Linked DNA regions of Homo sapiens: region 2 is linked to region 1. The links come from fine-mapping of genetic effects on gene expression. A gene starts in region 1. The other region holds a variant in brackets. All regions are shown on one strand. Distances are between the middles of the regions. Region 1 holds the start of PRSS23 (serine protease 23). Region 2 overlaps ME3 (malic enzyme 3).

The links. PIP is the estimated chance that this variant, and not a neighbour inherited with it, causes the effect. A credible set is the group of variants that fine-mapping cannot tell apart.
Region 2: its variant is the best candidate, but not a certain one, in a credible set for the expression of PRSS23 in whole blood (INTERVAL, PIP 0.62).

Annotation. Positions count from the first base shown.
Region 1 is chr11:86,796,896-86,807,959 of GRCh38, forward strand. It overlaps PRSS23 (serine protease 23), which reads left to right and starts at 3,647. Exons shown (of 2, transcript NM_007173.6): 1 at 3,647-3,756; 2 at 10,736-11,064. The coding sequence starts at 10,749.
Region 2 is chr11:86,652,862-86,669,980 of GRCh38, forward strand. The region is part of intron 2 of ME3 (malic enzyme 3); the gene reads right to left. Among named protein-coding and RNA genes, the nearest start is that of ME3, 11 kb to the right of the region's middle. The variant G/A (reference allele first, on the strand shown) is at 12,555.

The DNA of each region.
Region 1 (11,064 bases):
CAGCACCTGCCAGAGTGGGAATTAATGATTCCCTCTTCCATGTTCTCTAGCTCATGTCTGTATCCTGATCCAGCTGATATCTTGCTTTCTCCTATATTTGATTTTGTTTATGTCCATTGCATACATTCCTCGAGCTGAGGGGTATTTGCTTTCTCTCCCTGACAGCCCAAATAACCTTACACAGAGTGGATGATCAGAAAATGTGTGGGCTTTGCCCTGAATGCATTTTGAACAACTCCATTGCTACGCATATAAAAAGTATTCGGGAATTACAATTATAGAGTTGAACTGAGTTCTTAAGAAGCAGTGAGGATTTCGGTTTTGGTTCCCCCGACCCCCTCCCCACTGGGGAGGGAAATGGGACGAGTACAAAAAGAAAAGCAAACCTCTAATCTTAGCATGAAGACATCTGCTGTTTACATTGGTCATTTGTCTCAGAGGTCAAAATACAGTTCTATCATCGTCCTTATGGCAATCGTGATGACAACCTAACAGCCAGGAAGTAGCCTCTCATTTTACTCTTGGTAGCTCTGAGGAACAACAAAAGCTTGTGGTGCATGTTCAAACCCTGAGCCCCCGTGGGACATCTGTAGTTAAAGAGTCCTTCCTATTAGCTCTTTGGATAGTGGGCGGTAGTCCCTGAGACCAGATGAAGGACTGTTGTGCTCTTGGGCCCTTCTGTGCCTCAGTTTTTCTCTCTGAGTGATGGGAATAATCATCTTGTTCTCCATGACTCTAACTTGAAACATTGCAACTACTAGGAAAAAAATGAGCAATGAATGTCAAAGCTGACTGAGGTGGTACTGGAGGACTACACTCCGAAGCAGAGCCAAGTGTGATAAATATAACAATACCTAATATTTATTAAGGGCTTGTTCCATGTAAGAAACTCTCCTAAGCACACTATGTATATTCATTCAATTCTTAAAAGAACTCTATGAGAAAGTCCTGGTTTTACAGAGGAGGAAACTGAGGTACAGAAAAGTTAAGTGAAAAGCCACACAACTAGTAAGCGTCAGACCTTGGATTGGTACCCCATAGTCAGATGCCACAGGCCACTCTTAATTATGTTGCTGTATGGTCCTCCTATATGCATCTCTTTAATTTTGTGCCTAGCGCAATGTTTTCCATGTAATATGTGCTCAATATATATTTGTTGGATTGAAGTGACTCTAATACAACTTGAGCATGGTTGATAAATCTCTCCCTTCTTCCCTTCCTTCCAGCTGCACCTCCAGTTCCTCTATTAAGATACTTACCTTTTAATGGTGTTTCTTCAATTGGGAGCTACAGACACTTAGAGATCCTCAATTTAATCTTTAAAATTTTTATAATAAAAGATAAACACATTCTGGATCATTGGGATGACCATCTCATGCCAAGTACTGCCTCTTGATTGCAGCACCTGTGTGTACTAGTCTTTGGCAGCAAGAGTTACCACTTCACTTGCTATGCTAATAAGAGAGAAACAGCACAAATACCTAAATAATGTATTAGAGTCAAGAGAAACCCATTGCAATGACATATGGTGTGGGCAAAGGAGATATGGTAGATGGAACGAAGGAAAGAGGTGAGAGAATTGAGTCTGCATTGGGCACCTCACACATCATGAGAGTGGCAGAGCCACAGGGAAGTCAAAGGTACTGACGCCTCAGCTGTCAGTACCATGCAATGCTGATAGTAGTCCAGGAAACGTTACTAATTTCAATTTTATTATTCTGGAAGAAAATTTTTATAAATCTGTTTTGGTTTTATTTGCGAGTTGTTCAAAAGCTGTAACATAAGTTTATATCTGGTTTTGTGTCTGTGTGTGTTTTGAGACAGGGTCTTGGTCTGTCACCCAGGTTGGAGTGCAGTGGTGATCATAGCTCATTGCAACCTCCACCTCCTGGGCTCAAGCCATCCTCCCACCTCAGCCTCCCAAATAGCTGAGACCACAGGCGTGTGCCACCACAACTGGCTAGGTTTTTTGTATTTTTTATAGAGATGGGGTTTTGCCATGTTGCCCAGGCTGGTCTCAAACTCCTAAGTTCAAGCAATCTGCCCACTTTGGTCTTCCAAAGTGCTACGATTACAGGCGTGAGCCACTGAGCCTGGCCTATGTCTCTATATATTAATGTGACATTTTAAAAGAAAACAATTGAAGCTAAGCTAAGAAAAATTTGCCCTTAAAATGGTGGAAAATATCAGTTTCCTTTCTATTTAAGAAATACCAGGCCGGGAGCAGTGACTCACGCGTGTAATACTTGCTGAGAAGGGAGGATACTTGAGCCCAGGAGGTCTACGCTGCAGTGAGCTATGATCCTGCTACTGCACTCCAGAATGAGCTACAGAGGGAGTACTTGTCTTGAAAATAAAATAAAAGAAAAGACCACACAATAATGTGTTCAGGGCTTTCTCATGTAAAAGTAATTGCAAACACCAACGTATTAGGCATATCAGTAACACCTTGGTGTGAAATAGCACTTTAGACCTTCCCTTTCTGAGAGTAGACTTTGATAGGAGAAAGGAAAGCTAAGTAGCTTGATAGAAAGCATGGCTCAGTGCAAAATCTTGTCCTACCATTCAGTAGCTGTGTGATTTTGGGCAAGTCATAAAACCTCTCCAAACCTCCTGTTCCTTATAAAAATTAGTGTAATCTCTGCACCTTCTTCACCACAATGGCCTATATGTAAAGCTCTTGACCGAAAACGCTCAATACACAGTAATCTATACTAAATAGGAAGGCTCTAACACTAGGACCTTAAATGGCAAGGTCTCCAGCCTGGTTAGGAGAGGACTCCCCGCACACCCCCCTACCCTGGCCCCCAACCACCACCACCAAGATAACGACCGCTTGGAGTGATTCAGGGAAGTAGGCCCACTGGACAAGGAGGTGGCTCCACCAGCTGGTGCCCCGATGAAGAACTGAGGCCAGTGGGCTCCCCAGCCACCGCCGCTCAGAAGCTGCCAAGCACCCCCGGTGCTTTGGGCCCCACGCACAGCACTGAGTGCTGTAAGGAAATGCAAAGCATTGGTGGCCCTGCCATGGGAATACAGGTTTCTGTTCTTTGGAGGCACCGGAGAAACTAGGAGTTCGGTCAGCACCTTAAGGCGCTAAAAGTGTACGTGGGGGTGGGGCGCACACAGGTTCTGAACCAATTCTTCAAATTTGCCCAGGGCTCCCCATACACCAGGTGTGGCCCGCGTCCCTAGTTCTAGGCTGTTGGGGGAGGGGTCGCCTTTTGTAGGGGACCTGGTCTTTTTGCGAGCTGGCAGCGTGCTCCCAGCAGCGAAGGCCGTAGTCTCGCTCAGGAGGCCGCGCGCCAGACCCGGGGATGCGCGGTGTTCAAAGGGTGACGGCGCGCGGGTCCCGGGCAGGAGAGCCCGCCAGAGCCGGTGCTGCCTGGCGCCGAGAGGCCCGGACTGGCGACTGCTGCCGCGCCACCGGGGCCCACCTGCGCAGGGACGCTCGGCCTCAGGCCCTCTGGGCTGCTCCACCCTGCTCCGGCCGCAGGCGAGCGGCGAGGGGAGGGGGGCACGGTTTATGTGCAGTGGGGCGGGCGGCGTCCGCGCGGCTTCCCCGAGGCCGGAGGCGGGGCGGGCGGGCCTCGGGTGGCGCGGGGGGCGGACCCGCCAGCTGCCTGCGCTGCTCGCCAGCTTGCTCGCACTCGGCTGTGCGGCGGGGCAGGCATGGGAGCCGCGCGCTCTCTCCCGGCGCCCACACCTGTCTGAGCGGCGCAGCGAGCCGCGGCCCGGGCGGGCTGCTCGGCGCGGGTGAGTGCGGGCACCGACTGGGGCATCCGCCCGGGCGCGGGAGAGGCGAGGCGCCGGGAGGAGCGGGACAAAGGGCCGGGTATGCGCGGGGTAGGGTAACTGCGGGCTGCCGGAGGCACCGCAGGACTTCGCCAGGGCAGTCCTCGGGGTTCCAGGACACGGGCTGGGGGCCTGAAGGAGCTCTGGGGAGACGGCGGGGGCTGCAGGTCATTTGGATTCATGCAGTGTCACCCATGAAACGGATGGGGAAAGAAGATCCTGCTGTCTTGGGTGCAGGATGTTGGTTGGGAAGCAGAGAGAGCCGGCTCTCGGCAAGCTGTCCTTCGGCGGGGGCGATGGCTACACCCCCATGCACCCCCCCAACACACCACCACCACTACTTCTTTTCCTTGAGTTTTGCATATACCGGATTCCATCAAGTTCTGAATATTAAGTTTTAACCCTGGGCATGTGATTGTGAACACACCTAAGCAAGCAAGAGAAGTGCAAAAGTGCAGCAAATACAGGCTGGGAAATAGAATCTTTTCTCCGGAGTGGTTGTCCGTGTGCGTTCCGGGGGTGCTAACCCTAGACACTACAGTCTGAACTAACAACAGTTGTTGTAAGCAAATAGTTCTTCTGCCTGTAGGCATTCATCACGAGTTAACTTTTAAATAAAAGTTTTAAAGTTTTAAAAGGAGCGGGAGAAGACTTGTTCAGATGAAGGAACACCACCACTCCTCTCCAGAATACAAATTAGGTTTGCTTTCCAGCACCTCAGGAGAAAGCAGCTGATAAAAATCCTGTTTGTTTTACTGCCCACTGGGTGACACCAGTAAGAATTAAGCAGCTCAGTGTAGGTATTGGAATAGGGCTTGCTTCTCTCAGCTCCTGAAACTAAATTTGAGGGCTCCCTGTGCACTCCTTAGGAACAGGTAGGCCAGTGCCAGAATCCTCATCACATGGTCATGTGAGAAAGAATTGAATTTATAGATGAGGTCAGCTGTGGTCAAAAGCCCTATGTCAAAGTAGTATCAGGATATTTATTGCATGTTGTTTCAAGATCCTACTTGTGCATGCGAGTATTTGTGACAGGTTTATAACCGTGCCTACCATGAAGTCTGTCAGGAGTGGATTGGAGGTGAAGTGGGGAGAAGGAACTTAGAAAATGCCCCCAGAAGCCACTATGTTTATTTGTGAAAGTGTTTGCACCCCATCTGCGTACGAAAAGGTTGTTTCACTTGCAGTTTTCCTAGTTAAATAAAGTCAAGCGGTAACTTGTCCTTTCCTGTGCCTGAACTGGGAAGGAAGCCTTTTTCCAAGGTGCCTAATATGGATCTCATTTTTGTAACACTGACGACTTATTCAGCTGGATGGTTAACATGGATGCATTTTCTGGTTGTAGCATAAGTGTCCATTAATGCATCTGAGAACATTTTTGTCCCCAGTCTGCAATGGTTAATAGTCTCAGGTTCTCCCAGTAACTCTTCTCATAGATCCCTTAGGATTTCATCCACCAGGCATTATTCATGCCTAACTCCCACAGACTCCAGGGAATTTGTTTCTCATGTTCTCAATATTAGCAGGTTTTTTTGCACTCTGTTCTTGTTCTGCCAGGTTTGTCCCAGGCTCAATTTAGTTTACCTGAAATCCGATAGAGAAGAGGCTAAACTTCATTTGACCACAAGATTGTGTTTAGGGTTGCTTGGACTTGTAAGTGCCTTGTAGTTTCCTGTACAAGACTGTAATTCTTAAACGATTATGTGATTAGGTCTGTTTTGCCTTAATAGGGTCTGTGATTCAGGAAAACGAGAACAAGCCCGACTGCAGAGTATTCACAGAGCTTGGTTCATTCTTAAGCATTTGCTTTAGGATTTAGCATGATTTCACCGTTCCATATCACTGACCACTGATTCCATGGAAGACCCTTTGTCATCTCTCCAAATGGTGTCCAAAACCTGTATCTTTGCAAACTTTCCTGCCGTTTCTTTCTGTCATTACTGTTTATAGCGGCTGCAGGAATTCACAATTTGTACAATAGAGAATACATGACCTAAGGATTAGGTTTTCCCTCCCAGCACTTGTTTGCTATAGGAGTTAAATCATTCTCTCAAACAGTGGCCCTCTTGAGGAGACCTGTGTTGTTGCAGTTTTCAAGACTAAGGTGCCGTGCAGGAGACAGTAGTCACTGCATCCAGTCTCCAAAGAGATTGTTGTTTGCATATCTGTTAATTATGCAAAGTCCCACCACCAAGGGCCTATGAAGTGGCAGCATCCTCAAAAAGTATAAATATTTTCAGACAGTGGCTCATATTGAGTGATGGAGGGTGGACTGTGTAACCTATTTATGAATCAGATACCCAAAGCTGGAAAAGGAATAGTTTCTGTATTACTAAGCATGGTGAAAAAATATTTTCTTACCTTCATTTTCCATTCTTCCCTGCCAGTTAGGTGAAATGATGCACGGAAACACTTGGTTGGAAACCTTAAAAGATAATTTATGTATACCAGGAATCTTTATTCAGCAAAAGTTTATTCCTAGAAATGAAACGTTATAGACCTAAATTTTCTTCATCCAGACTTAGGTAAAAGGGTGAGATTTGAAAATCTTCATTCCATTTTTAAGGTGTGAGTCTTCCAGGCAGCTCTGCAAGGATAAGGTGATTCATTTATAAGGGTGAGAGAGAATTTAAAATCATGTAACTCATTAGTTACCTTTCCAGGTGTGGGATTATGAATGTTTTCATTACATCTGTTTATACCTTAGATGAGTGTTTATGTTTAAGTAAACTTAAACAGGTATAGCACAGGCTTACCCAGGGTTTATACAGATGGTAACAATAATTATTTGTCTTCTAAGGAATTACTCCATTATCATGTGAGTTGAGAAATGAATGTAAATCCACCAACCTAATTTTAAAGCATCACAGTTTTGCATCATTTGTTGTTTTATTAATGCGGATGAGTCAGGGCAGGCTGCGAATGCCTCAGGAAAGACCCTTAATGGACAGGAGGGTTGTTTCCCCCTCAGGCTTTTCTTTGGGGCCTGTCTTAAGAGCATACACACACAGCCATCCCTCCACTCAGTTCTTGAAAGCTGCCTTCTGCTGGAGTCACAATTTGTACAATAGAGAATATATGACCTAAGGATTAGGTTTTCCCTCCCAGCACTTGTTTGCTATAGGAGTTAAATCATTCTCTCAAACAGTGGTCCTGTTGCAGACTGATCAGGGAAATCTTGTCTGCCAGATAGATGAGAAATTAGCATGATTCATTTTCCTTTTCCTTTTCCTTTCCCCCTCCTTTGCCTCCACCCTCCATAATTCCATGAATCAATGGTCCTGAGAAGTAAATGATAGTACAGACACTATAGTCAGCATCGTCCCTGACCTGGACTTACGTGATTCTGGAAAATTATAATATTAGGGAATCCTGGACCTAAAGACCAGAGCTAAAAAGACCAGCTAAAGCAATCATCTGGTTGAGGATGCTATTCAGAAGAATTTCTAAAGCACCCTAAATAAACATTTGGTAAAGGACTAAGCAACTTAAGAAGCTTGTAGCTTTAATACAGACATCAGTTTAAACCCATTTAAGGGCTTGAGAACCCACAGCTGTATCTTCTAATTTCTGATTAGATATTTTAAAAATATCTAAGCCTAATCAGTTTGAAGTAATTTGATGGGCATTAGTTTCTAAAAGTCTGCATTCATTTCTAAATCTGAATTAAACTTTTTTAAATGCAATTTTATAACTTTTAGCGTTACATGGAAGCTTTAAGCAAGATATATAATGCTGTCAGAACAAAGTCTTATCACACAAGTTAGTAAATAGGGTTTAGTAATGTGGAGAACTTGGAAGCAGAGTTGCAAACTAATAGAAATTAGGACTTATTAAGTCTCTGAAAAATTTATTCTTCAAAGTTAAAGCTTCACACTGTCCTGTTGGGTTAGCAGTTTGTTTTTTTCTTATAGATGGCTGGCTTCTCCTTCACTCCTGGCTAAATGAACAGAATTCAAGTTGTAAGAACTCTGAATTAGTAATATTCTATCATGCAGTAGACTCTTTAGCATTCTCTAACAGGATTCTGTGATTCATAACTGATCCCAAAGTTTCTTGAGACATAATCATTCATCATTTTGCCAAAGAATACATTTGATCCTCTATATTGAGAGGTTGGAGTAAGGCTGTGGCTCATGAAAGAGGATATTGTAACTGCCATGTTCTTCATGCACATTGAAAATATTATCTGTAGCTGATGATAATACATACTATAATACTACCTCATCTCCTACTCTTTCTCCCCCAAGAATCGTATTTTAAAAACAAGAACGCTTGGCAGGTTGGACCTCCGCATTCTGTGTTTTCTTTCTTAAGATAAGCTGAAGTAAAACTTGGCTTACCATGTGCTCAATGTAAGTCACATTAACATTCCCCACATTACTCAAAGGGAGGAGAGAATGGTGCGTTGAAGCCCAAGATACAGCCATGTGGGAGATATATGACTCCTCCTAGTCCCTGTCACATTTGGCAGGGATTCTGGTGTGAGTGGGGCATTTAGTCACCTAGACAGCAACTTATATAGAGAAAAGGCTGCTCAAGTCCTCGATAAGCCCAAGGGATGACTCCTTAGCCAGTAGGTGGGAATAATCAGAACCATGCCCCACAGATCTCCTAAAGGGTTGTCATCACCACACCCATTTCACTGCCAAGTTCTCCATTGGAGAGGAGGACTCAGCTAGCATTGGCATCCCCTTCCTAGTCCACTTAAAACCTTTAGTCTTGGCAATATTCCCAACAAGCACATACAAACACGTGTGTGCACATATGCGGGCACCCCATGTTTTCAAGGATTTAAAGAAATAATTAAATGTATTTCCTTCCTACAAAAGGGCTCAGGGACCCTTCCTATTTGGAAAGATGGAGACAAGTAGAATTTCAAGGAATTAGGGAGTCCCAAGGAACTGGCTTTTCCAGGACCTTATTTCTTTCTTTTCCTATCCCTATTCTCCCTGACTGAAGTGGAAGCCAAGAGAAAAAGTCAAGCAAAAAGGTCCCAGAGGTGGGTGGGGCACACACATATGTTAGAAACACAGTGTGGATATTGGGAATGAGAATGGGCATGCTCAGCTATACTACATCAGATCATTGGGATTTTCTACTTTTATATAAAAGGGAGCAAAAGGCACCCAAAGTTGCCAGTAGATCTGTACTTTCAAACAGGAAGAGAATGAGAATAACAAAACAGTTTCTTCCTAACTTCTGCTGTGTTCCCAGAGCCTCTTGAGACCCACCCCTTCCGGGTCCTTGTTTTTGGATGCTTGGTTGTGAATGAGTTACCCTACCTGCTGAGTCAGCTTCTATTGAACCAGAAGAGTCAGAGCCACTGAGAGCCAACTGATGCTTAAACATTTATGAAAGCACTTTCAGTATTCCTCGTTGTTGTTTTTCTTGTGGGATGATTGATCTGGGCATTTAAACATACCTTGCAGTATAAAATCCAAACTTCTTTGTTTAGTACACATAGCACTTCACAATCTAGCTCTTGCCTGCTGCCTCCACCACTTCCTCTACTCCACCCTTGCTGAGCTAAGTGTGATTCCCCAAATTACTCACATGGTTGCATGTTGCTGTGCCCTTGCACAGACTCTTGTTTCCCTTCCCTAAGTATCCCCTTCTCTCTGTCTTATGTTATCAGACTTCTTTTCTACTTCAGCACCCATCTGAAACATCAGGTGATGCCTGGAAAATTTCTAGGCAATTTGTTCATTTAGAGGGTAAATTTAAATTACATAGCTTACTGAATGACCGAAGCATCAAGGAGGGACAGCTCCACGGTGTCACCTTTACTAGGACTCCTATTGCTTCTAAATGGTGGGTACATTTGAAAAGAACGGGTGCATTTGCCAAATAATACATTTGGTCCTCTATATTGAGAGGTTGGAGCGAGGCTGTGGCATACTATTTCTCAAGCATCACTTCTCCTAGAAGGCCTCTCTTGTTCTTACTCCCACAATTGGCCTCAAGCTGTTTCTCTGAGCTACCGCATCATCCATGTACATCATTGTCATTAGCGTCAGCATGCAACATTCATTCACTTTTCCATTAATACAAGCATCCATTTAACAAATCTTTGTCGAGTGCTAGCACAGGCCCAAATTTAAGAGATTTAGTTGGTAATACAGATATAAACAACTGAAAAAGTAACCAATGGTAACAGTTCATAGTGTTATAGCTGATGCAATATTAGAGCTTTAGATATTGACAAAGATCCTGGTAGTGTACAACATAATCCAAAGGAAGAAGGAATATTTTATTAGAAGCCTAGCCACTCTGGAACTCAATATATATAATAGTAAAGGTTGTTGTAAATTCAAAGCAAAAAACAAAACAAAACAAAAAATCTCATACCCTTTCTCGAGTGCACCATCATTTAAAAACCACAGGAGTGGTGGTAATTGTGACACTGTGGAGCTGTCCTTCTTTGATGTCTCAGTCACTCAGTAAGCCATGTAATTTAAATTGACCCTCTGAGTGACCAAGTTGCTCTGAAAATTTTCCAAGTACATGTTACAATGAGAATGAGAGAAGGAGGAGGGAAAGGCGGGGACATCATGAAGGTAGAAGAGGAGGAGGTTTAGAATCAAGCACAAAGAGGGCTCAAAATTACGTGGAAATTGGGGCTGGTCAGTCAGTTAGCCAGGGGACTAATGACTTTATGCCTGCTACTCTGCAGTCTACCATCATTAGGGACATCTTAAACATAGAAAGGAAGGAACACCCAATTTCACTTCAGGCACCCAGCCACAGGAACTTTCCTAAGGTTGAGCCTTTGCGTTGAAAGTGAGACCGTTATCTAAGGATTCCTCTCCACACCCTGATTCCTGAGGAGTGTTCAAAGACTCAGAAACAATGACAGGCCTGCTGCTGAGCTTTGCTGTCTGCAGTAAATGAACGTTCAGCCCTTGCCCTCCTGACCTGCTTGTCTTTGTTTCTACAGAACAGTGCTCGGCATGGCAGGGATTCCAGGGCTCCTCTTCCTTCTCTTCTTTCTGCTCTGTGCTGTTGGGCAAGTGAGCCCTTACAGTGCCCCCTGGAAACCCACTTGGCCTGCATACCGCCTCCCTGTCGTCTTGCCCCAGTCTACCCTCAATTTAGCCAAGCCAGACTTTGGAGCCGAAGCCAAATTAGAAGTATCTTCTTCATGTGGACCCCAGTGTCATAAGGGAACTCCACTGCCCACTTACGAAGAGGCCAAGCAATATCTGTCTTATGAAACGCTCTATGCCAATGGCAGCCGCACAGAGACGCAGGTGGGCATCTACATCC
Region 2 (17,119 bases), 140 kb before region 1:
GAGACACACACAGGCTCAAAATAAAGGGATGAAGGAAGATCAACCAGGCAAATGGAAAAAAAAAAAAGGCAGGGGTTGCAGTCCTAGTCTCTGATAAAACAGACTTTAAACCAACAAAAATCAAAAGAGACAAAGAAGGCCATTACATAATGGTAAAGGGATCAATTCAACAAGAAGAGCTAACTATCCTAAGTATATATGCACCCAATACAGGAGCACCCAGATTCATAAAGCAAGTCCTTAGAGACCTACAAAGAGACTTAGACTCCCACACAATAATAATGGGAGACTTTAACACCCCACTGTCAACATTAGACAGATGAACGAGACAGAAAGTTAACAAGGATACCCAGGAATTGAACTCACCTCTACACCAAGCAGACCTAATAGATATCTACAGAACTCTCCACCCCAAATCAACAGATTATACATTATTTTCAGCACCACACCACACCCATTCCAAAATTGACCACATAGTTGGAAGTAAAGCACTCCTCAGCAAATGTAAAAGACAAAAAATTATAACAAACTGTCTCTCAGACCACAGTGCAATCAAACTAGAACTCAGGATTAAGAAACTCTCTCAAAACTGCTCAACTACATGGAAACTGAACAACCTGCTCCTGAATGACTACTGGGTACATAACAAAATGAAGGCAGAAATAAAGATGTTCTTTGAAACCAATGAGAACAAAGACACAACATACCAGAATCTCTGGGACACATTCAAAGTAGTGCGTAGAGGGAAATTTATAGCACTAAATGCCCACAAGAGAAAGCAAGAAAGATCTACAATTGACACCCTAACATCACAATTAAAAGAACTAGAGAAGCAAGAGCAAACACATTCAAAAGCTAGCAGAAGGCAAGAAATAACTAAGATCAGAGCTGAACTGAAGGAGAGAGCGACACAAAAATCCCTTCAAAAAATCAATGAATCCAGGAGCTGTTTTTTTGAAAAGATCAACAAAATTGATAGACTGCTAGCAAGACTAATAAAGAAGAAAAGAGAGAAGAATCAAGTAGAGGCAATAAAAAATGATAAAGGGTATATCACCACCAATCCCACAGAAATACAAACTGCCATCAGAGAATACTATAAACACCTCTACACAAATAAACTAGAAAATCTAGAAGAAATGGATAAATTCCTCGACACATACACCCTCCCAAGACTAAACCAGGAAGAATTTGAATCTCTGAATAGACCAATAACAGGAGCTGAAATTGAGGCAATAATTAATAGCTTACCAACCAAAAAAAATCCAGGACCAGATGGATTCACAGCCGAATTCTACTAGAGATACAAGGAGGGGCTGGTACCATTCCTCCTGAAACTATTCCAATCAATAGAAAATGAGGGAATCCTCCCTAACTCATTTTATGAGGCCAGCATCATCCTGATACCAAAGCCAGGCAGAGACACAACCAAAAAAGAGAATTTTAGACCAATATCTTTGATGAACATCGATGCAAAAATCCTCAATAAAATACTGGCAAACTGAATCCAGCAGCACATCAAAAAGCTTATCCACCATGATCAAGTGGGCTTCACCCCTGGGATGCAAGCCTGGTTCAACATATGCAAATCAATAAACGTAATCCAGCATATAAACAGAACCAGTGACAAAAACCACATGATTATCTCAATAGATGCAGAAAAGGCCTTTGACAAAATTCAACAACCCTTCATGCTGAAAACTCTCAATGAATTAGGTATTGATGGGACATATCTCAAAATAATAAGAGCTGTCTATGACAAACCCACAGCCAATATCATACTGAATGGGCAAAAACTGGAAGCATCCCCTTTGAAAACTGGCACAAGACAGGGATGCCCTCTCTCACCACTCCTATTCAACATAGTGTTGGAAGTTCTGGCCAGGGCAATCAGGCAGGAGAAGGAAATAAAGGTCATTCAATTAGGAAAAGAGGAAGTCAAATTGTCCCTGTTTGCAGATGACATGATTGTATATCTAGAAAACCCCATCGTCTCAGCCCAAAATCTCCTTAAGCTGATAAGCAACTTCAGCAAAGTCTCAGGATACAAAATCAATGTGCAAAAATCACAAGCAGTCTTATACACAAATAACAGACAAACAGAGAGCCAAATCATGAGTGAACTCCCATTCACAATTGCTTCAAAGAGAATAAAATACCTAGGAATCCAACTTACAAGGGATGTGAAAGACCTCTTCAAGGAGAACTACAAACCACTGCTCAATGAAATAAAAGAGGATACAAACAAATGGAAGAAGATTCTATGCTCATGGGCAGGAAGAATCAATATCGTGAAAATGGCCACACTGTCCAAGGTAATTTATAGATTCAATGCTATCCCCATCAAGCTACCAATGACTTTCTTCACAGAATTGGAAAAAACTACTTTAAAGTTCATATGGAACCAAAAAAGAGCCTGCATCGCCAAGTCAATCCTAAGCCAAAAGAACAAAGCTGGAGGCATCACGCTACCTGACTTCAAACTATACTACAAGGCTACAGTAACCAAAACAGCATGGTACTGGTACCAAAAGAGAGATATAGATCAATGGAACAGAACAGAGCCCTCAGAAATAACGCCACGTATCTACAATTATCTGATCTTTGACAAACCTGAGAAAAACAAGCAATGGGGAAAGGATTCCCTATTTAATAAATGGTGCTGGGAAAACTGGCTAGCCATATGTAGAAAGCTGAAACTGGATCGCTTCCTTATACCTTATACAAAAATTAATTCAAGATGGATTAAAGACTTAAACGTTAGACCTAAAACCATAAAAACCCTAGAAGAAAACCTAGGCATTACCATTCAGGACATAGGCATGGGCAAGGACTTCATGTCTAAAACACCAAAAGCAGTGGCAACAAAAGACAAAATTGACAAATGGAATCTAATTAAACTAAAGAGCTTCTGCACAGCAAAAGAAACTACCATCAGAGTGAACAGGCAACCTACAAAATGGGAGAAAATTTTCGCAACCTACTCATCTGACAAAGGGCTAATATCCGGAATCTACAAAGAACTCAAACAAATTTACAAGAAAAAAACAAACAACCCCATCAAAAAGTGGGCCAAGGACATGAACAGACACTTCTCAAAAGAAGACATTTATGCAGCCAAAAGACACATGAAAAAATGCTCACCATCACTGGCCATCAGAGAAATGCAAATCAAAACCACAATGAGATACCATCTCACACCAGTTAGAATGGCAATCATTCAAAAGTCAGGAAACAACAGGTGCTGGAGAGGATGTGGAGAAATAGGAACACTTTTACACTGTTGGTGGGACTGTAAACTAGTTCAACCATTGTGGAAGTCAGTGTGGCGATTCCTCAGGGATCTAGAACTAGAAATACCATTTGACCCAGCCATCCCATTACTGGATATATACCCAAAAGATTATAAATCATGCTGCTATAAAGACACATGCACACATATGTTTATTGTGGCACTATTCACAATAGCAAAGACTTGGAACCAACCCAAATGTCCAACAATGATAGACTGGATTAAGAAAATGTGGCACATATACACCATGGAATGCTATGCAGCCATAAAAATGATGAGTTCATGTCCTTTATAGGGACATAGATCAAACTGGGAACCATCATTCTCAGCAAACCATCGCAAGGACAAAAAACCAAACACTTCATGTTCTCACTCAAAGGTGGGAACTGAACAATGAGAACACATGGACACAGGAAGGGGAACATCACACACCAAGGCCTGTTTTGGGGTGGGGGGAGGGGGGAGAGATAGCATTAGGAGATATACCTAATGTTAAATGATGAGTTAATGGGTGCAGCACACCAACATGGCACATGTATACATATGTAACAAACCTGCACGTTGTGCACATGTACCCTAAAACTTAAAGTATAATAATAAAAAAAATTTACAAGAGAAAAGCAAATAACCCCATCAAAAAGTGGGTAAAGGATATGAACAGACACTTCTCTAAAGAAGACACTAATGCGGCTGATAAACATATGAAAAAAAAAAAGCTCATGATCAGTGGTCATTAGAGCAATGCAAAGTAAAACTACAATGAGGTATCATCCCATGCCAGTTAGAATGGCAATCATTAGAAAGTCAGGAAACAACAGATGCTGGAGAGGATGTGGAGAAATAGGAACGCTTTTATACTGTTGGTGGGAGTGCAAATTAATTTAACCATTGTGGAAGACAGTGTGGGGATTCCTCAAGGATCTAGAATTAGAAATACCGTTTGACCCAGCAATCCCATTACTGGGTATATACTCAAAGGATTATAAATCATTCTGCTATAAAGACACATGCACATGTATGTTTATTGCAGCACTATTCACAATAGCAAAGACTTGGAACCAACCCAAATGCCCATCAATGATAGGCTGGATACAGAAAATGTGGCACATATACACCATGGAATACTATGCAGCCATAAAAAAGAATGAGATTGTGTCCTTTGCAGGGACATGGATGAAGCTGGAAGCCATCATTCTCAGCAGACTAACACAGGAACAGCAAACCAAACACCACATGTTCTCATTCATAAGTGGGAGTTGAACAATGAGAACACATGGACACAAGGAGGGGAACATCATACATTGGGGCCTGTAGGAGGGGGTGTGGGGCAAGGGGAGGGATAGCATTACCAGAAATAGCTAATGTAAATGATGGGTTGATGGGTGCAGGAAACCACCATGGCACGTTTATACCTATGTAATAAACCTGCACATTCTGCACGTGTATCCCAGAACTTCAGTATAATAATAAAAAAAAGATAATGCAGCCCTGCAGTTCACAATTACATGCTTGCTATGGTATTAACTTGTGACCAAACTAGAAGAAAGACTCCTGAGGTATCATTTTCCTTTAGAAAAAAAATAATAACCATCTTTATAATGTTGTTCGTTCACTTATTTATTATCTGTCTTTCTCACTAGATTGTACACTCAGCAATAAGAAGAATCATAGCTGGCAAGCTTATGATGTTATTCTCAATACCTCACAGTGCCTAGAAGATAGCAGGTGCTCAGTAAACATTGGGTGGATGGATGGATGGACAGGGATTCAGGGATGCAAGTAAAGAAGACATGAGTTCTAGGACAGGAAGCAGGATAATGTAAGATGAATAGCTCTTCTTAGGTTGGCAACCCTCAGCATCTTAGGGGTACCATGAAGAACCTCAGGATATGCCTCATATATGAGGCGGTCTTTAAGGAAGAAGAGGCCATGAAAACAGGAGATGGGAGAGATGTAGGCAAAGTTTACCTTCTTCACAATTTTTTTTTTTTGAGACAATCTCATGCTGTCGCCCAGGCTGGAGTGCAGGGCGCGATCTTGGCGTACTGCAACCTCCACCTCCCGAGTTCAAGCATTTGTCCTGCCTCAGCCACCCGAGTAGATAGGATTACAGGCATGCGTCACCAGCCCAGCTAATTTTTGTATTTTTAGTAGAGATGGGGTTTCATCATGTTGTCCAGCCTGGTCTCGAACTCCTGAGGTCAAGTGATCCACCTGCCTCAGCCTCTCAAAATGCTGGGATTATAGGTGTGAGCCACTGCACTCAGCCTGCAATTTTTCCTCTGCTTGCAAATAATATATGTAACACACCTGTAAGAGTAACTGGCACAGTAGGCATTATATGTGATTGTTATTATTTTTAATGTGATTGTGCCAGTAATTTTGAGCCCCAGAGGAGGCAGCTGACTCTGTCCAGTTGACAGTAGTAGATCACAGAACATTGAATAGCTCAGTTAACAAGAGAGTGGCTAAGGATGCTTGGACCCTCCAGTCCTGCAGTCAAAGCCAGTTACCAGAGGCAGGACTGCCCCTCTGCTTGGCAGGCCCTCGCTCCTGGCACCACCTGGCCAGCTGCCCCACTGGCACCCATGCCATCATCTCCCACAAGCATGGCTAGGCTCCTCAGACATGAGGAGAAGCTGCTGCCAGCTCTGGGAGTGTGAGAACAGGGGAAATGTTTCAGCTCTGATGGGTGGATTTAAAAGTCTGTTTCTAAAAATGGCTATTAATAGGTTTTTCTCTACACCAACCATCTCTACTCCTGTTTCATCAACAGCAACTGCATTGCTATTCACTGTCCTTGTGACCTCAAGTGATTTTACCAGTCAAAAAAAATCTACTGCCTAGAATAGACCAAAAATAAAAGAGATAAGAAAGGAGAGTATGACATGAAGGCTAAGCTTTCTGTCAGTTTGTGTAATGTTTTCAAGATCATGTTACTGCAAAGAAATACATAAAATTCAAAAGGAGGGTGGCAACTGGGAACTCACACAGTCATCAGAAACGGACACACAGGAGCGACAGCAGGAGCTACCTCAACAGATGCTTAGGTTTGCAACATACGTTGTTTAATATTAAAGCACTTCATCTGCATTGTTTTAATATTCAAGTTTTTTTATGGAGAGACTCAAAAGCCCTCTGCCTAAGTTGACTGAGGCTGATTCAAGACCCTATTTCAAGATGGCAGGCAAAGAGCTACCTTTCAAAGATGGTAGGTAGAAGAGACAGACATCACTCAAGGAGGGAGTTCCCCTTCACCACTTACTTCCTGGACAGGACATCAACCCCTCAGGGCCTCTGAAAACTTATGTAGACTAGTGATAAAATGCTAGGATATTATCTGCCCAAAGCCTAAATGCTAGTCAAGATGACCTCTTTGTCTTCTGGGGGGATGATCATCTTGTGTTCCAACAGAGGAGAAAAGTTTGGTTCACATTGTGTATGCAAGTATTTATTAACTACCCGTGGCAGTGTGGATGGAGACTATCTTAAAACTTCCTGCCCCGTCTAACTGCTAGCTGGGTGAAGTTGGCCCAGCCATACCCTATTTAGCTGGCTATGAAACAACATTTTAACTTTTATCCTAAATTCCCATGGTAGACATTCTCTTAACTTCCTGTCTCACTATCAGAATCTCATGAGACTGGGAGCGTTATAATGGTGACAGGCAGGAAGGTAGATAGAGACATAGATGATAGCTGAATGGATGGATGGACCAATCAATCGATAGATAGATCCAAATTTGGCTGGATCTATTTTTTTTTTAAGTTAGTTTTTAAACCTTGGTTAGAATATACCAAAATGTTGGGACAAAATCCTGAGACTACTGATGATATCCACTATCTTCAACACCAGCTTCAACTTCCAGAACTACTAGCTCTTTAAATGACACTTGAATTTCTGCTGCTAGTGACATTTTAATTTAAGCTTCTCTCAGGCAAATGTCTAGATTATCCAGGCTTAAGCTCTATCCAGTACTGGGAAATCATCACTAAAGTCTCCACCCAGTCTGCCTGTTCTCTGACTCACTCTTCTCCTGTCAAGTCTGCCAAAATTAGATGTAGCCCATGGCCATCGAAAGTGAGTTTGATCCTTCAGTCTTCCCCTCTCCTTCCGGACTGGATGCTTTCAGGGGGCATGTACCAGATGTAAACTCTATCACATCTGTGACTTCTGCAGCCCACACAGGGCTTCACAATGTGTTAGGAATGCAACAGAAGCTTTAGGATGTGCATTAATCAAGAACTAATTGGACACTTACCATCTGCTTTACATACATTACTTCACTTAATCATTATAGCAACTTGTCAAGTAGATATGTTTTATTGTCATCCCTTTCACAGACAAGGAAATGGAGGTTCAGAGAAATATCCCATATCTAGAGAATGGCAGAGATGGGATTGGAATCTTAGATTGTTCTGAGTGTAATTCCCTCGATTTTTAGCCTTTGAGCTCTGCTGCCTAATACCTGGTCACAGGCTATGCCCCTTGAGGGTGTCACACAAAATTGATTCTAGCTGACTACTTTCCTTTACTCCCCAAATCCTCTAACCTGTTCCAAGTTAGAACAGGTCTAAATTTAATGTCTTTAAAGCAGCCCACGGATGAGAATTGATAATCTCATCACAAAAGATGCTATTCTTTAGAGGAAGTGCACCTGGCACAACATCAGAGCAGAAAACTCTCTTAAAGAAATGTATTTCCAAAATTTGTATGATGAAATAAAAGATTTTTTGTGGCTTTCAAAATTCTCCAGTCCCCATGGAGTGATCTAAAAGAGGGTCAGGTCAAGATTTTCACCATCTTTTCAAAAGAGCTGACAGATGGGGCTGATGTATCATCAGTCTTCACCATATAGTTTCTGATACATCAAGGAGAAGGGAATGTAGAGGCAATTCATGTAACTAATTTTTACTGAGGTTACACTATCAGGAAGGCATTGCATGCTGGCTATGAGATGCCCACGACAGTCTCCTGGATCTGAAGAAAACACATGCACATGATGGCGATACATGTGCTAATAAATGTACACTAAGGCCAAATGTGGAAAGAGCCATGACTACTACAAATGCTACATGCCAAAGAAATGTAGAGGATGAATGAATTACTGCCATGTGGCGTTATCGAGGAGGGCATCATAGCAGAGGTGACCCTGGAGATGCTGAACCCTGAAGCATGCCAAAGTTTTTAAGTGGATCCGGTATGGATGGGGCACCCAGGCATTGTGCAACACAAAAGTGAGGGAAAGAACAAAACCAAAGAGCATGTCAAAGTACTGGAGAGATGTCTTTAATTCTATTTGTAGAATTAGAAATGTCATGATATTATTTAGCTTTCTGAAGATGAGGTCTCTTACAGGGTACATGTCTATTGCTCAATTTCTGCACATAGAGCTACAAAAGCAATGGATGACTATACTCAGAGACAATGCCATTCTGTCTCATTATCTGACCTAAATAGCTTCTCCTCCACCATCTTCATCTACCACCTCTGACACTTCCACAGGTGTCAGCCTTGCCAACACTGCCATTGGAAGTGTTTCTGCACCTCTCTTCTGTGCTTCCATAGCACTTGTATGAATGCACCTCTCGTTACATCTAACCACTGAATTAGAATTGCCCCTTACTAACTGGTCCTCACTTGCACCCCTCTTACGCTATAAGCTCCTTCAAGGCAGAGTATTGTATTGTATTGTATTGTATTGTATTGTATTGTATTGTATTGTATTGTATTGACCACGGTGTCTCCACTGCCTAAAACTAAACAGGAACTCAGAAAATGACTATTGAATAAATTAAACAAACAAATGAGTCTTGGGAGAATTACACAAAGTTAAAGGGAGAGAAAAAGGCATCCAGTGATCTTTAAAGTTCTCTCCAGCTCTAAGAATCTACAATTCTAACAGAGCCAGTGGAAGTGAAAAAAGCTAATCAGAAGTCCACAGCAGGGAACAGGGAATACACTAGTTATTTCTCTGGAAAGGCCACAGCACATCAGACTTCATGCACTAGTCCCAGATAAGAGGGAACCTGCACACTAGAAGTGTTAGTACAGCGTAGGGGATAAGCCCTAAAATCAGGTGGCCTGAGTTCAAGACTCAGTTCTGCCACTATGAGTTGTATGACCTAGGGCAAGTTAGCTAACCTTATGCCTCGGTTTTCTCATCTGTCATATAAGAACAATAACAGTGTCTGAGAGGCTGAGGTGGGAGGATCACTTGAGGCCAGGAGTTCAAGACCAGCCTGGCCAACATAACAAGACCTTGTCTCTACAGAAAATTAATTTTTTTTTTATTTAGCTGTGCAAGGTAGCTTGCCCCTGTAGTCCCAGCTACTTGGGTGGCTGAGGTGGGAGGATCACTTGAGCCCAAGAGTTCAAGGCTGCAGTGAACTATGATTGTGCCACTGTACTCCAGCCTGGGTGACAGAGTAAGACCCTGTCTGTAAAAAAATAAAAATGAAAATAAAATTTAAAACAGGAATAATATAATAACAGTGTCTACCTCAAAATGTTGTGGTATTGTATTAAATGGGTTAACATATATAAACTACTTAGAACAATTCCTAGCACACTGCATGTCCTAAAAACATTAGCTGTTATTACTTGACTTCCCTCCATAACGTTACCAAAGAAAACTCAGTATAATAGGAATCTGCATTGGAATCTTCAACACCTCTTTCAAAACCAGAGAAAGAAGAATGCAGAATGTCTATTTTGACTGGAACCCTAGCTCCACTGTACACTTGGCAATCCCTCTCCTGTTGGGAAGTCCCTGGGCAGCCTCATAACTCAGAAGCTATGCCAATTTATAGAGATGTAGACTCCCTCCTTCAGTTTTCTGAAAGAGCAAAGCAAAATAGAACAAAACAAAGTGATCAACAGAGACTGCCTTCTCCAGAATTCCACACTACAGAGGAAGATGTTTCATGACCAATTAAGTAATGGGCTTCATGTAGCTCACTACCAAAAGATGACACAGAATCAAGACAAAATGCTTTTAAAATATAATAATCTCAAGTTGCTGATCATTCAACTGTATCTTCTAAAATACCTCTAGTTTTCAAGAATCACTTTTAGAAAGCCAATGCAGCTTTGGCTTTCTCTCATTCAAGTTTCTCAAAAGCTGTGGATCTTTCTATCAAAAATCCCTCTCCTCAAATGACAGGTGCATTTTACTCTTTACTGTGTCCTTTTGGTAGGAATTGTGTTTCAACTGGGCTGCATGGCAACCTTTCAGATACAAAATGAATGCATGCTTTTAACCACTGACCTCGGCACACCCAACTGTAGGATATCCATCACATTTTCCTCACAATCATAGAGCATCTTTTGTGCTCTGCATCAGAGAGGCAGTCGGATACCACCCCCAAAGGATTTCCCGATATACTTTCTACACATCAAAGTGAAGGTTTTTGAAACTGACTGTAATCCATGTCTTTGCAAACAAAAGTGCTGCACATTAGTGATCCTTTTGCAATGGCCATAGAAATCAAAAGGCCTTTTTTCCCCCCTCTCACTATAATACTGACATTTGGAAAGAAAAGAGTAGATGATAAAAAGAAACCTTTGGTAGAAATGACAAAAATGTGAAGTAAAATAAGGCCATAAACCTCAGGGTCCACAAAGGCCAACATAAATTGGAAACAGGGAGACTAGAGATGAGCCTGAAAAAGTGTCCAAAAAAACGCCATATATGGAGCCCAGACTTAGACTGACTTAAGATGTCAGTTGGCCCAGGTCTGGGCAAAACACATATTTCTGTATGGGATTTACCCTTCAGCGTTGCTGCTGACGTAATCTAGATATTGCTGTTTACAACTGCTTTTAGAACAGGCAGCAGGCTCCTCTGTTAACATTTTGTTATTACTTTATTGCCTCTAGAAGATAACTAATAATAAAAGCTTGAAAGGAGACGACTTCAGAGGGATCTCCACCTATATGTTACAGATGGGCCAGCTTCCCAAAGTTGGTCTGAGTATTATTTACTTGGCTCTAGAAACAATTCCCAACAGAAACTGTAACCTAAAATTGAAAAGAAAATGGAACATTAAAGGAAAAGTACATAAAGAGGAAATAAATCTCCCATAATCTCACTGACATAACACAATCATATTCACACATTTACTTCCAAGCCCTTTAATATTTATATCTTTTTACAATAACATTCATGAGTATACAGTCTACTTAGTATTTTGCAATTTGAATTAAGCATTCATTAACATAAGCCAATGTTTCTAAAGTCTTAATAATGATTACACAAATGCTTACTTAACACGATATACTTTCCTTGGAGGATGATTCAATTATTTACAACATGCCTATGAGAAAACACTTTCTGAGTATCATCTTCAGGTTCCAGGAACAGCAAATCTCCCTCTTGTGTTCCGGGCACCCCATTCCATATTTCCTTGATTTTCAGACCCTTGGGAGCAGAGGCTCTGAGTGGTTTCCTTTGACTTTTATAGGGGTCCTACAGAACAGTGGAAATACAGAAATTCCGAGCAGGGATGAAGTCTCCAAGGACTCAGAGTGGAGGGTGGGAGTTCCAGTGGAGATGCTGACAGATGCTGGGGTCTCCTAACTCTGGTCTATTCCCTAAACATCTCCTTTTGTGTTTTCCGTGGGCTCAAGAATTGTCCTTGTCCACCTCTGGTTCCAAGGCACCACCTGTGTCTTCTGAATAGGACCTCCTTCTTCCCTGGGCTCTGCTTAAAGCTGGAGATAAACAGTTAATATCTCTGTGCTGTGCTCCTCCAGCACTTCATTCTGTAGTGGGCCTCTGGGCACCCAAAGGGCTGATGTAAGATGTATACACACTCCAGATGGGCATGTCAACACCACAGATGAGGACACTGGGCGATGAGAGTCACCAGGGTGAAAGAAGGGGCCTTGGCAAAAGGCAGGGTGAAGGGAAGAGATGAGAGGAGGGAGCCTTAGCAGATGTCTCTTTGAATGACTCGCTCATTCACTAACTGCTTACGAGCACCAACTAAGTACCTGTGATACATCAATGAACAAACAGACAAAGTCCCTGCCTAAGTGGATCTTAAGTGAACAGACAATAAGCAATAGACATACTAAGTAAGCAGTTAGATAGCATATGAGGAAGTGTCAAATACTATGGGGGAAAGCAGGATGTGTAGGGGGAGCAAGAAGGTTGAAAGGACTGTTCATGAATTCACATGTGTCGGTCAAAGCAGCTATCATTGAGAAAGTGAGAAACTTTGAAAAAGGGAGGGAGTTAACTATGTGGCTATGGAGG[G/A]GTGGTGTGCTCTAGGAAGGAGGATCAGTCAGTGCAAAGTCTGGGTAGGAGCACAACTGACTGAGGAGGCCAATGGGGTTGGGGCAGTGAGTGAGGCAGAGAAGAGTAGCAAGAGATGAAGTTAGAGAGCATCAATATGAAAGGCATCATGAAGACTTGGATGTGGCCAGGTTTTAAGCAAAGAGTGACATGTTGAAACTTAGTTTTAAAAAAAAATCACCCTGGCCATTGTGTTGAGAATAAATGAGAGGCGCTAAAGGGAAAGAGGAGACCAGCCAGGAGGCTGCTGCAGGCATTAAGCAGAGAGATGCTGGAGGCTTCAATCAGTGGTGACCCATGGTGAACAGGGGCTGGATTCCAGATTTAGTCTGAAGACAGGGTAACAGGATTTTCTGGTGGATTCCATAAGGGGTCTGAAAGAAAGAGAGTGGTCAAGGATAGGACCAAGATCTAAGCATCTAGAGGAGAAGACTGAAGACTGAAGAGGACTGGAAATTGGGAGATTAATTCAGAGGTTCTTGCATAATCTAGATATGAGATGGCAAAGGAGTGAAAAAGGCTGATGGTAGTGGGGATATAGAGAAACAGATAAATTTTTAAAGGCTGGGGTAAAATTGACAGAGTGAAACAATGAAAGCTTCATATCAACATTTTGTGGTAGTATCTTCATTTTCCAATTTCCCTTTATTTAATAATGTAGAATTTTTAGCTGAATACATGGGTGCCCAGCCAAAGATTACATTTTCCATGTTCTCTTGCAGCTAAATGTAGCATATGACCAACTTCTGGCCAACTGAATGTAAGTAGAAGTGATATTTATAACTTCCAAGTTGTGCCCTTAAAAGGGATTTCCCCTTCCCAATTGGCTTCTGCGTGGAATTCACAGCAGAGGTAAGACCTGTCATCCTGGACTTTGAAATGTAAAATGCATACTGGATGGCAGAGAAACAAAGTCAAACCACACATCAACTCATGATTGCTTGCCCAGACTTGTTCCTAACAGAGAAATATACTTCTATCTTATTTAAGCCTCTGTATCTGGGGTTCACATTGTTGTCATTGCCTAACCTGTAGCAACTAATAAACATTCTCTGAGCTGTTCTAAAAACAAAGCCCCAATACCAATACTTAGTAATCCTGTGAAGCTAGGACAGTATTCAACAGAGAAAAGTTTGATTTCAACCTGCCTCTGCTAGTTTGTTCCAACATATCTGAACAGTATTTGAGCTTCAATGCAACTGAGTCTTTGTACAAGCTCAAATCTAGAGTAAATTGCCACTTATGGAGCTAATATTTACACAATAATCCACTGTTTCTCTCAACTAGGAGGCACAATTTTACATCATACCTGAAGCAGAGATCTCGAGAAGATATATTATGTAATCTGCCTTCCAGCATCACCAATAAACTTCTAATTATCCATACAACACACTTAACATCTCCTGATTGATGAGCCAAATCCATAGTAACAACCTCCCCTCATCCAAAGAAGACAAGATCAAGTTCTAAGCTAGCAGAGAACAAAATCATATACTTTATTCAAAGGCAAATCCTAGCTGTGTGGAAGTCTAATAAATCATCATTGAATACAGAAGGGATTCAGCTGAAATCTGTGCAGTCTCAGATGTACAGCCAACACTGCAGCACTGTCCTTCAAGCCTTTGCAGGTTTACTGCTCTAAATGTATCAAGTCCACCTGGGAAGGCCATCACCCGTGGTGCCTTGCAGTCTCTGAGGCCCCACTACGTGAAATGTCCTGGTCCATAATCACAGTGACTTGACTAAGCACACTTTCCATTCATTCTTTCCCTGACTATCAAGCTCAAGAGATGAAAAAACTACAGAGAAGCAGGTGAAGGATCAGTGGAATTTCGTGGCAAAAAAAATCACTGCTGGCACACACGGATCAAAGGGGGAAGATTGGTGTGTTCTGGGAAATAATGCACTCCTTCAGTTAAATGCCCTGAAGTCTGGGAAGATGAGAGTCAAGCAGGTGCATTTCCTTCAAATGGGCCATATGTAGGCATTTATTTAGGCAGCAAGAGCATTGGGCTGTGAAGTAGTGACATTCAGATTAATGAAGTTGAGAGGAAAGGGGCCATGACATGATTGAAATCATTTAAAGAACAAATATTTATTGAGCATTTCAAGTCAGACAGAGCTAATGCCATGTGACAAGACAGAGTGTCTGTCCCCATGGTCTAGTGTGGAAGGCAAACCAACCAGCCATTGTAATAGTGTGCTCAGTGCCAGAAGGCAACAGTGTGATAAGACAAATAGGAGGGGACTCAGATCTAGTTTGGCAAGTGGGGAATAGGACGGCTCTTCCTAAAAGACACTATAGGTAAATGGAGGTCAGAAATATGTTGATGGCCCATCAACATGTTGCTACAGTTATAGAATGGGGATGGCATCTTCCTATGAAGGTAACCCTGTGAAGTGGGGCTGATAGTTGCCTATTTAATGTGAGTAAAAGAGGGGTCATATAACCAAAGATTTACTCTGTTGCCAAATCCGTATGGACAATAGAAGAGGTCATTACATAAATTTTAGAAGAAAAGCAGAATATTAGTTTTAAAAAGAAAAATAGAAGCTCATGCGTAGTTAATTTGCATCATTTAGAAAATCTAGACTCCTGGAGGGAGCTTGGAATCATCTAGTATCAATTCTGTCACCATCAGGAATATGCCTAAATCAGTCTATGCAGTTGTGAATTGCCATCATTATTCAGTAGACTCAAATACAGCAGGCAGGCTGCCTCTGTCCACTTCTATGACCAATGATAATCTCTGTGGAGTTGCTTGGCTTCTTCCTTGGCTTCTCTTTTCTTTGGAAAATGAAAATGTTGGATGAGAACAATTATTTTCAAAAACTTTTTGTTACTACAATCCACAGTAAAAATAGTCATTTTACATGCTGACCTGATAAAATATCCATCTTTATTAACTTCAATGCATTTGCTATTTTTCTATTTCATTCTAATACATTTCTTTAAAAAAATTGCTGGTAGATCCACTAAGCTAATTTCATGTCTCATAGTTTGTAACTCATAGTCTGAACAATTCCAGACTAGATCATCTCTGAGGGGCCTTCCTACCCCAATTATGGAAATCATCCTCATTATCACCTAATATTTACCACATGGGGGCTGTCTCCTATGATCCTCAAAGCAGTAGTGTAACACGGGCAGAGGAGCTTATGAGATTCATCACAGATCACATGGCCAGAGCATGATGGAGCTGGTACCAGAACCCAGTGAATGCACAATAGCAGCAATGCTTGCCCTGGTCGGCACCTCTTCTCTCAGATAATTCCACCTCCTGACCACCCTCTGTCATACAGCTGCGACTTAAATGCCACTCCTAATCTGTCGAAATGAGCTGCAAATCTAGTGAACACATTCCAAGAATTTAATGTTAAGCTAGATCTTTCAGGCACTACCCCATGCCAAACACAGGTGGACGAATCTCATTACCTGGCCTGGAAGGGCTCTCCTTCTAACAGAAAAAAATCCACCCACAGACATGAACACTAAGCACAGCATTGAAGACTCTTTCAAAACTGCACTTCCATTTTGCTTCCTCAGTAATAACCTCATTGTTCTATTTAACCTCAGCACTATCTTCCCACCTGGCTGATGCAAAGTACCAAGGCTCAAGCCTTCCATGGAGACTCTCTGAGCACTGGAGGACAACAGAACAGCCAGAGGGTGGCACTCCAGTGGGAAGAGAAGGGCACTCACAGTAACTCCCAGGAAGCACTCCCTCTGTTGCTCCCCTTCTGTCCCCAAGGGTGAGTGAATAGGGGATGCCAACAGGCTGTCAGCCTCCTTCTAGATACCCTTCTTATCCCAGACAAGCATCAGCTGACTTCAGGAATATATAAAAGATGTTGTTTAACATCATGGAAAGGTCAGGTCCTTAGATTTATGGATAACACCTGTATTAGTCTGGTTCTTACACGGCTGTGAAGAAATACCCAAGACTGGGTAATTGATAAGGAAAAGAGGTTTGATTGACTCACAGTTCCACATGGCTGGAAAGGTCTCAAGAAACTTACAATCATGGCGAAGGCACCTCCTCAGAGGGTGGCAGGAGAGAGAATGAGCGCTAGCAGGGGAAATGTGTCAGGCACTTATAAAACCATCAGGTCTCGTGAGAACTCATTCATTATCACGAGAACAGCATGCAGGGGAACCACCCCCGTGATTCAATTACCTCCCACAGGGTTCCTTCCACAACACGTGGGGATTATGGGGATTATAATTCAAGATGAGATTTGTATGGGGACACAGCCAAACCATATCAACAACTTATTTATAGTACTTGGGAGAAAAAAATTTACATCAGAGGCAAACGACAGGGGCAAGAATGATTTCAGGGGACCAAAACCTAGGTTTTAAAAAAAGACTTAAAGATCTTCCTTCATTTTCTTAACTACTTAACAAAGCAATAAATGCTGGTTGGTAACATGCCAGTAATTCTAAGGCAATTATTTTCACAATGATTGGAGCCTGTAGTGGGAATTTATTGTTTTGCTTTCTACATCCATTCCTCCTCCTTCTG